2 linked regions of the Homo sapiens genome follow. The protein of the gene in region 2 purifies or fractionates together with the protein of the main gene of each other region. This does not show direct contact. Each region holds a gene or a part of one and is shown on either strand. Other genes may lie near its edges.

Region 1 (7,025 bases), on a different chromosome or scaffold from region 2:
CCTCCTGCCTCAGCCTCCCAAAGTGCTGGGATTACAGGTGTGAGCGACCAGGCTTGGCCTATTTTCTTATATCAGAAATGTTTAGTGAAAATTGGAGGTGAAATTTGAAACAACACTCAGGACCTTTGTTGAGGCTAGGCATTTTATAATATAGATTCCCTGGAGATGACGGGGGTTGGCTGGTGCTGGAACTTGAGCCCTATCTGGCCTTTTGTAAGTGATAGAGAATTGAGAATTGAAGGCGTGCTTCCCACTGTGGTGTGACCTTGTGAGCTGGAGTCATCTAAGAAATCCCAGTCGGTGGTTTGTCCATATACCATGATTTCTCTTTAGAAATATAAACAGTAGGCTGGGCATGGTGGCTCACACTTGTAATCCCAGCACCATGGGAGGCCGAGATGGCGGGGGGGCGGGGCGGGGGGGGGGAAATCACCTGAGGTCACGAGTTCAAGACCAGCCTGACCAACATGGAGAAACCCTATCTCTACTAAAAATGCAAAACTTAGCCAGGCATGGTGGCAGGTGCCTATAATCTTAGCTACTCAGGAGCTGAGGCAGGAGAATCGCTTGAACCAGGGAGGTGGAGGTTGCAGTGAGCCAAGACTGTGCCACTGCACTCTAGCCTGGGTGACAGAGCAAGACTCCGTCTCAAAAACACACACACACACACACACACACACACGCACGCACACAAAAAAGAGATCTGTCAAGATAAAAAGCTCAATAATAGGCTAGGTGCAGTGGCTCATGCCTGTAATCCCAGCACTTTGGGAGGCGGAGGTGGGCAGATCACGAGGTCAGGAGTTCAAGACCAGCCCAACCAACATGGCGAAACCCTGTCTCTACTAAAAATACAAAAATTAGCCAGTTATGGTGGTGTGTGCGTATAGTCCCAGCTACTCCGGGAACTGAGGCAGAAGAATTGTTTGAACCTGGGAGGCGGAGGTTGCGGTGAGCCGAGATCACACCACTGCACTCCAGCCTGGGCGACAAGAGCAAAACTCCATTTGAAAAATAAAATAAAATGAAATAAAAATAAGAAATAGTGAAAATAAATAACATTCCCGAAGAGAGAAAATATAACCCCTGAGAAGGGAGAATTGGGCAAAAGTTAAAACGAACTTAAGTTCTGAGTAATGTCTGTTTGAATCTACAAGTAATAAATGCATTCTTTTAACTTCTGGATTAAATCATACATCTTAAATAGCCTTTTTGTTTAGTTCACTCAAAAGAATGCTTTTTGCTTTTGCTGTGTGGTACTTGCAAAATCAGGAGGGGTTTACTCTAAAATAGTTTTCCCTGCAGCATTCTTTGGGGCTATGGGAATGCTCAAATCAGCGGCCAGCCTTTGCTTCTCATTGCCTCCCTCTCCCCAGGCAGTTCTCCCTGCTCTGATTGTGTCTCTACTAAATGGGCCTCCTAGGAAATGGATGTTCATTCCCTGGCTTCAATTAAGTTAGCTCCAGATTGTGGCCGTCTTTCAAGTAGAGGACAGCTGAGCTTAGAATACTAACATTTCTCCCTAGATGAGGAAGGATAGATGTCAAAGGAATTCTTTTCTGACACTTCTCATATGACCTTTATGTGTCTTTTCTCAGAAGCAATATTTTGTTCAAGCCAGATGTGTTCTTGGTGTGTCAGTATGTGTAAAAACATGGCCTTCGAATATTGACATTTAGGATTTGGACAAGGTGAACCTATTTGTCAATTGAGTTAGGAAACATACTTTGTTAATAGCTCTTTCCACAATTATCTGAAATTGTTATCAGTTTGAACATGATGAAATCTGATGCCTCTTTCACTCTATACAGTTATTTGCCACTTAATGATGGGGATGCATTCTGAGAAATGTGTCATTAGTGGATTTTGTTGTGTGAACGTCATAGTGTACACAAACCTTGATGGGATATCCTACTACCTACCTAGGCCCTGTGGTACAGTCTGTTGCTCCTAGGCTACAAAGCTATACAGCCTGTTACTGTACTGAATATTGTAGGCAATTGGAACACACTGGTAAGTATTAGCATATCTAAACATAGCAAAGGTACAGTGAGAATACTTTTTTTTTTTTTTGAGACGGAGTCGCATCTTTGTTACTCAGGCTGGAGTGCAATGGCATGATCTCGGCTCACTGCAATCTCTGCCTCCCAGGTTCAAGTGATTCTCCTGCCTCAGCCTCCCAAGTAGTTGGGATTACAGGCGTGCACCACCATGCCCAGCTAATTTTGTATTTTTAGTAGAAACGGGGTTTTACCATGTTGGTCAAACTGGTCTTGAACTCCTGACCTCAAGTGATCCACCCGCCTCTGCCTCCCAAAGTGCTGGGATTACAGGCGTGAGCCACTGTGCCTGGCTGACAATGTGGTGTTATCATCTTAGGGGACCCCTGTTGTATATGCAGTATGGTTGACCTAAATGTCGTTATTCAGGGCACTCCTCCCCAGGGCTGCTTAAAAATCCATTCACTGGCTTGGAAGTTCTACCTAAAAATAGCAAGTCAGCTGGCATTTTTAATGAACATATTGAAATACCAGAGAATGAAATTCCTGTCTCTGCTGACCATTTTAATACACGTGTTCAGTCGTGTGGTTTAACACATTCAGGTAGATTGGGAGTGAGACTTGTGATTGAATTTGGGCTCTTTCGCTGATCAGCTGTTTGACCTTTAGAATATGAACTATAGTTGTAAGTTTAAAATTGCTTTCCTGTGATGTGTAGAAAATAAGGCTGTAACAAAGCAAGAAATATTTTTCAAATATGCTCCTGGAAAAATAAAATTATTGCTATTTAGCTTTGCAGGAAGAAACTTCAATAAATCTACAAGGTAGGTGCTATAATCTCATTTTACAGAGAGATATGAAACTCATATGAAAGGAGTTCACCTCCTTTCTCCCGAAATTCATTTAGAGCATCTATGAGTTTCATATCTGTCTGTAAAATGAGATTATAGTGCCTACTTTGTCAAGGTTATCGTGAAAATTATCACACATCATATGTGAAAAATAATATATATTTAATATAATTCCTGGCAGGCAGTATTAAATATTCACTAAGTAGAACTGTACTTAAGTGCAACTAGCAGAGTGACAACACATTTTAACAATGTTTCAATAACAATACAATTTTGGACTTTTAAATTTTTTTTTTGGAGTCTCGCTCTGTCGCCTAGGCTGGAGTGCAGTGGCAGGATCTCGGCTCATGGCAACCTCCACCTCCTGGGTTCAAGCAGTTCTCCCTGCCTCAGCCTCCTGAGTAGGTAGGATTACAGGTGCCTGCCACCACCCCTGGCTAATTTTTGTATTTTTAGTAGGGACAGGATTTCACCATGTTGGCCAGGCTGGTCTCGAACCCCTTACCTCAGGTGATGCACCTGCCTCGGCCTCCTAAAGTACTGGGATTACAGGCATGAGCCACTACGCCCAGCCTAAAGATTTTTTTAATACAGGGGAAATTATTAGAAATTTCTGGGTTTCCAACATTCGAAAGCTTTTGAAAGGTGATAAAGTATTATGATGAAATCATTAGTCTTCTCACTGAAGTGAAGATTAAGGTAACACATTCATTTGTAGTATTAAGAAGTATTGTAAAACAAAAATCTTCCCAGGCACAGTGGTTCAGGCCTATAATCCTAGCACTTAGGGAGGCTGAGGCAGGAGGAAGGAGATCACTTGAGGCCAGTAGCTCAAGACCAGCCTGGGCAACATAGTGAGACCCCCTGTCTGTCTGTTGGTCTGTCATGTTCGTTTGTTCTCTCTCTCAAGACATAGGGTCTTGCTGTATTGCCCAGGCTAGTCTTGAACTCGGGCCTCAAGTGATTCTCCCACCTCGGCCTCCCAAAATGCTGGAAAGGCATGAGCCACTCTGCCTGGCCCGAGACCCTGTCTCTTAAAAAAAAAAAAAAAAAAAATTCTAGGCCCAGTGCGGTGGCTCATGCCTGTAATCCCAGCACTTTGGGAGGGCAAGGCAGGCAGATCACCTGAGGTTAGGAGTTAGAGACCAGCCTGGGCAGCATGGTGAAACCCTGTCTCTACTAAAAATACAAAATTAGCCAGGTGTGGTGGCGCATGCCTGTGATCCCAGCTACTTGGGAGGCTGAGGCATGAGAATCACTTGAACATGGGAGGCAGAGGTTATAGTGAGCCAAGATCGCGCCATTGCACTCCAGCCTGGGCAACAAGAGCGGAAACTAGATCTCAAAAAAAAAAAAAAAAAAAGATATAATAGCAGTTGCAGTTTGAGTGCTTACTATGAGCCAAGTTTCATTTAATCTTCACAATAACCTTCTGAGTTAAGTGTCATTGTCCTCACTTTGTAAATTAGGAAACTTGAGGCTTTACTAGGTTAAGTTGTACTGGGAACTGTGCTGTAACCACATAGCACACGTCTCTAAATGGGGACTTACAATTAGTTTGAACTAATATAGGCCAAGCCAGGGGTCAGCAGACCTTTTTAATTATTTTTTTTCAGATGGGGTCTTGCTTTGTTGCCCAAGCTGGTCTTGAACTGCTGGACTTAAGCCATCTTCCCGCCTCAGCCTCCCTAGCAGCGGGGACTATAGGCATGCACCATCACCCCTGGCCAGTAGTCCTTTTCTGCGAAGGTCTTAACCAAACGTTTTTGGTTTTGTGGGCCATACAGTCTCTGTCCCAGTTGCTCATTACTCAGTTTTGCTGTTGTAGCACAAAAGCAGCCATAGATAATAGGTAAGTGAATGAATGTGTCTATTTCAATAAGACTTTATGGACACTGGAATTTGAAGACTTTTTTCTTTTTATTCATTACTTCCTGCACAGTGATAATTTCTTTTGGGCTGGGGGGACAGGTTCTCACTATGTGCCCAGGCTGAGTGCAGTGGTGCAGTCGTAGCCCACAACAGCCTTGAACTCCTGGGTTCAAGCAGTCCTCCTTCCTCTGCCTCCTGAGTAGCTGGGATTACAGGTGTGCACCACCACACCTGGCTAATTTTTAAATTTTTTGTAGAGACGGGTCTCACTATGTTGCCCAGGCTGGTCTCAAACTCCTGGCCTCAAGCAGTCTGCCCACATAGGCATCGCAAAGTGCTGGGATGACAGGCATGAGTCACTGCACCTGGTTGGAATTTGAATTTAATATAATTTTTACATGTCTCAAAATATTATTCTTCAGATATTTTTAACCTTTTAAAAATGTGAAATTCATAGGCTGGGCACAGTGGCTCACGCCTGTAATCCCAGCACTTTGAGAGGCTCATGCGGGTGGGTCACCTGAGGTCAGGAGTTAGAGACCAGCCTGACCAACATGGAGAAACCATGTATCTACTAAAAATACAAAATTAGCCGGGCATGGTGGCCCATGCCTGTAATCCCAGCTACTCGGGAGGCTGAGGCAGGAGAATCGCTTGAACCCAGGAGGCTGAGGTTGTGGTGAGCTGAGATCACGCCATTGCAATCCAGCCTGGGCAACAAGAGCGAAACGACGTCTCAAAAAAAAAAAAAAAAAAACAGCGAAATTCATTCTTAGCTCAAAGGCAGTACAAAAACTGACGGCAGGCCAGATTTGGCCCACACGCTATAGTTTGCAGCCCCTGTGCTAAATCATAAAAGTATTTTTTCCTGGAAGGTCATAGTTATTCATACTGTGAATATTATTTAAGAGAGCATTGAAGATTGTTTTTATATTAAAATGGAACCCGTTACCTTATGGAATAAAACCCAGAATTTAATTTTCAAGATAAAACTTGGAGGCGGGGGCCGGGCGTGGTGGCTCACGCCTGTAATCCCAGCACTTTGGGAGGCCAAGGTGGGCGGATCACGAGGTCAGAAGTTCGAGACCATCCTGGCTAACACAGTGAAACCCTGTCTCTACTAAAAATACAAAAAATTAGCCGGGTGTGGTGGCAGGTGCCTGTAGTCTTAGTTACTCGGGAGGCTGAGGCAGGAGAATGGCATGAACCCAGGAGGCGGAGCTTGCAGTGAGCAGAGCTCATGCCACTGCACTCCAGCCTGGGCGACAGAGCGAGACTCCGTCTCAAAAAAAAAACAAACAAAAAAAAAAACAAAAAAAACTTGGAGACGGCTGTGGTGGCTCACATCTGTAATCCCAGCACTTTGGGAGGTTGAGGCAGGCGCGTCACCTGAGATCACGAGTTCGAGACTAGCCTGGCCAATGTGTTGGAACCCCGTCTCTACTAAAAATACAAAAAAAATAAAAAATTAACCAGGCGTGGTCGCACTCCTGTGTTCCCAGCTACAGGGGAGGCTGAGGCAGGAGAATAGCTTGAACCTGGGAGGAAGAGGTTGTAGTGAGCCGAGATCGCGCCACTGTACTCCAGCCTAGCGACAGAGCAAGACTCTGTCTCAGAAACAAAAACAAAAAAACTTGGATTCTAAAGATACGTTGTTCTGTAGATGGTCTCTGGACCGTACTTTCCTCCTTTCTCCTCAATTTCATTTAGAGCATAAAAGCACTTTCTTAGGCTGTTTGAAGCACTTGGATTGGAAATGTTGCCTGCAGTAACCTGTATAAACATCAATATATCAATAACAGATTATTAGTGCAAAATTTAAATGTCCAAAAACTGAAAGGGAATAATGATCGGTGACTGGGTCTATGAAATTACAAAAGTAAAGCCTAAGGGAGATGGCAAGCTTTCCTATTCTGCTACCCTTGTCAGCTGATGTCTTGGTAGAATTAATAAAGTACTCTTTTTAAACTCAAAAACATCTGTTTTGAATAATACTTTTTTTTTTAACACCCTACCTTTGAGGTAACTATTGTTAATAGTTTGTGTATATCCTTCTGGAATTCTTCTATTCCTGTAGACCTTGCAGATACTTTTTTTTTTTCTACTTGCAGTTATTTTTATTTTTTGTTTTTTGAGAGTGTCTTGCTCTCTCACCCTGGCTGGAGTGTGGCGGTGTGACGATAGCTCAACCTCCTGGGCTCAAGCAATCCTCCCACCTCAGCCTCCCAAGTAGCTGGAACTATAGGCATGCGCAACCAAGCCGAAATACTTTTTTTTTTTTTTTTTTTGTAGAGACGGTTTC
Region 2 (7,025 bases):
GGCAGAACCAACCCTGGTTAAGAAGCCCTGAGCTAGACAAACAGGCCTAGGGAAAAGTGACAGTATCTGGGCACGTATCTTTACGAATGCAGTTTCCCAGCAAAGTTCATTTATAAAGGTGCAGACACACCTTTGCCACAGAGTGGCAAATTTTCAAGCCTTGCTTCCAATATAAAACAAAATCTACAATTGCATCTGACAAGATCAACTGAATTTGGCAACAGCACGGTTCCCATATTTTGATCTTTCATACTCTCGAGCATGGTCAGAAAGGGTCAAGGTCTGAAAACAGCGTCTTGCGCGTGTTGACTCACCCTGTCCCCAGACAGCAGGCAGTTTCCACTGGGGCTCCAACGGAGCACGGTGATGTCGGCTGTGTGTGTCAGGGGCATCGTGTGCTGCTCCTTGTCCTGCTTGTTAAACACCGTCACTTCTCCAGTCTCCCAGCCCACAGCCAGCACCAGCCGCGTCGGGTGCCAGCACAGGGAAGCAACCCGGAACGGCCTCTCGACGTGTGTATCTGGCACGCACTCCCCCTGCATTGGATGAGAGGCAAATTCCCACAGTTCAGAGAGGGACAGCTACTTTTAAGAACTTCTGTCTAGGCCGGGCACGGCGGCTCACTCCTGTAATTACAGCACTTTGGGAGGCTGAGGTGGGTGGATCACAAAGTCAGGAGTTCGAGACCAGCTGGGCCAATTTGGTGAAACTCCGTCTCTACTAAAAATACAAAAATTAGCCAGGTGTGATGGCGGGCGTCTGTAGTCCCAGCTACTCGGGAGGCTAAGGCAGGAGAATTGCTTGAACCCAGGAGGCAGAGGTTGCAGCGAGCCCAGATCGCACCACTGCACTCCAGCCTGGGCGACAGAGCAAGACTCTGTCTCCAAAAACAAACAAACAAACAAACAAAACTTCTGTGTGATCTGTGGACTCCACATTGGCGACAAGGTACAAAAGCTATTAAGGCAATGGGGCAATGTTCTCAGTAGACTCTTTAATTTTTCATAAAAACGCACCAACCTTGCCCCTAGCTGAGCTACCAAAGCAGAAGGTAACTTGTGCTCAGCTGGCAACCCCGACCAGCTTCTCATGGAGTGCCACCTTGTCATGATGTGCCACCTCCTCCCCATGGCTGCTGGATGGCTGGCACGCATTTTAGTGCGTGGCTGGGTTCCCTAAAACCTTATCTACAAAAACCACCAGCGAGCCAGCAGGTGAGGTTTGTGGCCCCAGGGATCTCAAAGTGTTGTCCAGAGACCCCAGGACCCTTTCAGGGATCTGAAAGGTGAAAATTATTTTCAGAATAATAGTGACAGGTTAGTGCCATTCATACTCTCCTTCTTTCACGCGTCTACAGTGGAGCTTTTCAAAGGCTGTGTGATGTGGTGATGTCACTAATGACAGCTTGTGAGATATGTGCTGCGTTTCCTCTTTTTTTTTTTCTGAGATGGATTCTCACTCTGTAGCCCAGGCTGGAGTGCTGCAGTGGCATGATCTGAGCTCACCGCAACCTCCGCCTCCAAGGTTCAAGCGATTCTCCTGCCTCAGCCTCCCAAGTAGCTGAGACTACAGGCGCGCCACCAAGCCCAGCTAATTTTTGTATTTTTAGTAGAGACAGTGTTTCATCATATTGGCCAGGCTGGTCTCAAACTCCTGACTTCATGATCTGCCCGCCTCGGCCTCCCAAAGTGCAGGGATTACAGGCGTGAGCCACCGTGCCCGGCCATGTGCTGTGTTTTCTAAAATTTTCTAAAGCAGCAGCTTTGGGGAAGATATAAGTGCGTTTTCAGAGATTAACTTGGTTTGCCCCCAGTTGTTCCACTGGGCTTAGGAGCCATCTTCTGTGATCTCATCATTGTCCAATAGATCACTATTTTGAAATCCTGAAGTTTTCCTTGTGCCAACTGGAAACACAGAAATATGCTATTGACTAGTTTTATAATAGTATGCTTTAGATCTTCTAAATTTAAAAATTTTACCTAAAATTGCTATAACTTTGGAATTTAATAATATTTATTTTAAAAAATATCCCATTTACCATATATGTTATAGGCTCCTGCAAGGGAGAATCTACCCAAAAAAATGGGCAAAAGTGGGGTTGGTGCTGGGGCTGGACTGAGCCCTAAGTCTGGCACGGCCTTCGCAAAGCTGCCAGTATATGGAGGAGCCTGCTGGCAACAGGGGAGCCGCTGACCAGCGCTGCATCGCGCTGCAAGGGCGTGTGTGTGTGTGTGTGTGTGTGTGTGTGTGTGTGTGTGTGTGGAGGGGGGAGCAGTTCCTAAGGGGCCACTTAGCCACTTTCACCTGAAGGATTAATGCATTAATTACAAAAATGGATGAAGGAGTGTCTTCTTTGCAGGTGGCACAGCATGTGCAGGGCTGGAAGGCCGAGGAAGGCTGTGCAAGGCTGTGTCAGCATCAAGGAAGGTGAGCCTGATGTGACAGGTGACAGAGCCAGACCTGGGAGGCGCTAGGGGCCACATCAGGGACTCCATGTTCACCCAAAGAGCAGCACAGGGCCGGGGAGGTGGGAGCAGGGAGTGATTCCATCTGTGATGCCAAGACAGGCCAGGCCTGGTTGCCGTGTAAAGTAGAGGAGGCCTGTGAGGGCACAGCTGCCACAGTAGGAAGCTGTACTGGTGTCCAGGAGAGGGGGATGGGAACCTGGAGGAGGGAAGGGCGGTTGGAAGGGCAAGCAGCAGCAGACTCGCCAGAGGTTCCGGGGGAGAAACTGGGAGGATCTAGTGATGGATTACAAGGTAGGGGAGTGGGAAATGTCAACAGTCATGCCCAGGTTCTTGTTCTAGAAACCAGGATAAAGGGGGTGACTTTCATTGAGATGGGAGGTGCCCATCTCAGTGAGCAGGAGATATGAGGCAGGGGAAGGGTGGGGGACAATTTCAGTTCAGTTTTGTACAGTCTGAGGTCTCCTTGAAACACCCTAGAGATGTCAGGAAGGCAGCTGGGTCCCTAAGCTTACAGCTCAGAGGGAACTTCTAGGCAGGAGATGTATGTCTGCAAGCCACTGGGGATGCTCAGATCACAGGAGAAGGAAGAAATGGAGAGGAGCCCTGACCAAGCTCTGCAGAAGGCCATGGTGCTCACAAGCTGGAAATGGAGGAAGAGCTGGCAAAGCCATGGAGGCCGGGCAGGGAACGCCCTACCCCTGCGCTCTCGGGCATGTTTCCCAGAGGACTTCACAGGAGTGTGGTACAGACAAGGACCCCAAAACACTCAGGGGGTGACACCTAGAAGCAACTGATGACTGTCGCTGCTTGGGTGAAGTTGTGGTGGCAATAGGGAGCCTGCAGAGGGCTGAAGAGTGAGTAGAGGAGGAAACCTCATTTTCTTATTTATTTATATTTTTTGAGATGGAGTCTCACTCTGTTGCCCAGGCTGGAGTGCAGTGGCGTGATCTCGGCTCACAGCAAGCTCTGCCTCCTGGGTTCATGCCATTCTCCTGCCTCAGCCTCCTGAGTAGCTGGGACTACAGGTGCCCGCCACCACGCCCGGCTAATTCTTGTATTTTTAGTGGAGACGGGGTTTCACCGTGTTAGCCAGGATGGTCTTGATCTCCTGACCTCATGATCCACCCACCCCGGCCTCCCAAAGTGTTGGGATTACAGGCGTGAGCCACCGCACCTGGCACCTCATTTTCTTTATGGAATATGAGGTGCACTGGGCACCGAGAGGGTGATTATCGAAGTCTGAGGAGCTTGGGGAACGTTTCTGTTAGGGGGTGAATTGTGTCCCCACAAAGATATGTGGAAGTCCTATCCCTGGTCCTTGTGACATGGCGTCCTTTGGAAACAGGGTCTTTGCAGATGTGGGTAAGCTCAGGTGAGGTCATTAGAGCAGGCCCTAGTTACATATGCCTGATGTCCTTTTAGGAAGAGGAGAAGAGACGCAGACATACAGAAGGGAAGGCCGGATGACACCAGAGGCAGGGCTGGAGCAGCGCATCTGCCAGCCAGGGAGCACCAAGGCTTGCTGGGAACAGCAGGAGCAGGACAGCAGCTCGGGGCAGACACTCCCCTCAGCCTTCAGAGCCAGCGGGCCCTGCTGACACCTGATTTTGGAGTTCTCGCCTCCAGAGCTGCCAGAATACCTTCCTGTTGTTTAAAGCCACCCAGTTTGTGGAAATGATTAGAGTTCCAAATGGCCCCTATGGAGCGTGCAGGAGGGCACTGACAGAGGAAGATGCCTCAGGATCCACAAACAGCACTGTGGGGACATTTCTGGTGATGACTGTGAACTGATAGTGGCTTAATGCTGATAAGCATGAAGGATTCCTAAACATGTCCCCAAGCCACCAAAATAGCCAGCGTGAAAGAACTGCCCACATACTAGGGCTTTTATAACCCTGGGATTTGGCCTCTGTGAAAACTGATGACGGATGTCGTTTTCTTTTTTTTCTTTTCTGAGACAGAGTTTTGCTTTTGTTGCCCAGGCTGGAGCGCAATGGCGTGATCGCCGCTCACTGCAACCCCTGCCTCCTGGGTTCAAGCGATTCTCCTGCCTCAGCCTCCCGAGTAGCTGGGATTACAAGCATGAGCCACCATGCCCGGCTAATTTTGTATTTTTAGTAGAGATGGGGTTTCTCCATGTTGATCAGGCTGGTCTCGAACCCCTAACCTCAAGTGATCCACCCACCTCGGCCTCCCAAAGTGCTGGGATTACAGGCGTGAGCCACTGCGCCTGGCCTCATAGATGTCGTTTTCTTCATGAATAAGCTAGAGTAGAGTTCGTTTGAAAATACACACACGCACCACACGCACACACACACACGTGTGCACACACACGCATACACCCCCCCACATACAAGCATACAGATGCACACACACACCCATATGCACACACCCACGTGTGCGCACACACACACAGATGCAGACATACATATGCGCATACACACACCAATACACATACACGCACACACAGATGCATGTATACACACACACACCCATAGGCACACACACACATGTGCACACACACAAGGACAACAGCAACACAAACAACATGAGCCAGAAGCTACCACAGTCAGGCTCCTTGCTTCTGAGCACTCACTTGCTCCAGGTAAATATCCACGCTGCCTGTTGAGGTTGTGCTGATGTAAGCAACTGCCAAGAATGGATGGACAGGGTGCCAGCTGATAAATGAGGGTGACCCTGCTGCATCCGGGGCTTCTATCTGGTGGTCATAATAGAGGGCCATGACGGAACTCAGGCCTCCTCAGCGCTGAAACCTGCAGGGAAAAAAAAATGACCAAGTCCAATCAGTTTTAAATAAAACAAACAATATGACTGTACATGGAATGACGAAAAGGAAGCATCCCAAAGCCACCATCGGAAGACCATCGGCAACTTGAAAATGCCTTGCGGACTGAGCAGGCAACCTGATGCGAGGAGATCTCCAACAGGGAGACATGCAGAAGAGAAGCAGTTAGACCCGGAATCACCCAGGCTGTGACAGAAACGAATACAACTCATGGCCATCAAAGGAGGAAAGAAAGAAAAGGCCTGCAGCCTAACTACACACGCAATCCTCAGTAACTTTCATTCCAGTCACAATAAGGACAAGTTCTATTTCTGTAGTTCCCTTTAACTTTTTAGACCAAGTCTTGCTCTGTCACCCAGGCTGGAGTGCAGTGGTGTGATCACGGCTCACTGCAGCCTCAAACTCCTGGGCTCAAGTGATCCTCCCACCTCAGCCTCTCAAGTAGCTGGGACTACAGACATGCACTACCATGCCCAGCTAATTTTTAAGTAATTTGTGTAGACACAAGGTTTTACTATGTTGCCCAGGCTGGTCTTGAACCCCTGGCTCAGGTAATCCTCCTGCCTTGGCCTCCCAAAGTGCTGGGATTACAGCCGTGGGCCACCACTGCCTTTTAAACAACATTTTCAAACAAAATAAATGCAAACTGCTCCAGAAAAGAGTACTGGTACAGAAAAAAAACCAGTACTGAATTTCCAATAAAGCATAAAATCAAAGACTGTCTTTTACCTCTGACTCACAGGTGGTAGAAGACAGAAGTCTTCCTCTATTAGAGAGTCAAGAATGCACAGCCGCAGCAGCTGTGAGAAGTTGAGCTTGATCACTTACGTGAACTTAATCTCTCTCTTTCATTCTTCCTTTCAGATCTGGAAAAGATATACACATCGTCCCTTTTCAGGCGGGTTAGGGTGATAAATAAAGTGACGGTCTGGTTACTGCTCACTTTTTTACACCTCAGTCAATTTGGGGAAGTTAACTGGCAGAGAAGAACATACTTGTAGCCGGGTTTGCCACCATTTAAAATTATACAGGCTCATGCCTGTAATCCTAGCAATTTGGGAGGCCGAGGTGGGCAGATTGCCTGAGCTTAGGAGTTCGAGACCAGCCTGGGCAAAATGGCGAACGCCACCCGCCTCTACTAAAAATACAAAAGGTTATCCAGGTGTGGTGGCAGGCACCTGTAATTCCAGCTACTCCGGAGCCTAAGACAGGAGAATCACTTGAACCTGGGAGGCAGAGGTTGCGGTAAGCTGAGATCGCGCCACTGTACTCCAGCCTGGCAACAGAATAGGACTCCGCCTCAAAAAAAAAAAAAAAAAAAAGAAACCCGAACAACAAACAAACACTCCAGATCAAAACCTGGGCAATTTAAAATAGCAAAAGAAACCTTTAAATTAAAAAATATATATTGTTTAGAGACAGGGCCCCCAGGCTGGAGAGCAGTGGTGTGATCATGGCTCACTGTAGCCTTGAACTCCTGGGCTCAAGTGATCCTCCTGCCTCAGTCTCCCAAGTAGCTGGGATTACCTCTTAAAATGAGTTTTGGCCAGGCATGGTGGCTCATGCCTGTAATCCCAGCACTTTGGGAGGCCGAGGCGGGTGGATCACAAGGTCAGAAGATCGAGACCATCCTGGACAACATGATGAAACCTCTTCTCTACTAAAAAATACAAAAATTAGCTGGGTGTGGTGGTGCCTGCCTGTAATCCCAGCTACTCAGGAGGCTGAGACATGAGAATCGCTTGAATCCA

What was found. Proteins that work in one complex are often made in the same cells at the same time.
Region 1: the proteins of IFT140 (region 2) and TULP3 purify together in Homo sapiens (affinity purification with mass spectrometry; 6 studies listed by BioGRID and IntAct, with this or other methods). This does not show direct contact.

Annotation. Positions count from the first base shown.
Region 1 is NC_000012.12:2,893,885-2,900,909, forward strand, and holds part of TULP3 (tubby-related protein 3), read left to right. Parts: intron 1-7,025. UniProt on the Homo sapiens protein: Negative regulator of the Shh signaling transduction pathway: recruited to primary cilia via association with the IFT complex A (IFT-A) and is required for recruitment of G protein-coupled receptor GPR161 to cilia, a promoter of PKA-dependent basal repression machinery in Shh signaling.
Region 2 is NC_000016.10:1,602,056-1,609,080, forward strand, and holds part of IFT140 (intraflagellar transport protein 140 homolog), read right to left. Parts: intron 6,142-7,025; exon of another isoform or gene 6,004-6,141; intron 5,243-6,003; 5' UTR 5,212-5,242; coding exon 5,065-5,211; intron 2,428-5,064; exon of another isoform or gene 2,360-2,427; intron 537-2,359; coding exon 315-536; intron 1-314. UniProt on the Homo sapiens protein: Component of the IFT complex A (IFT-A), a complex required for retrograde ciliary transport and entry into cilia of G protein-coupled receptors (GPCRs).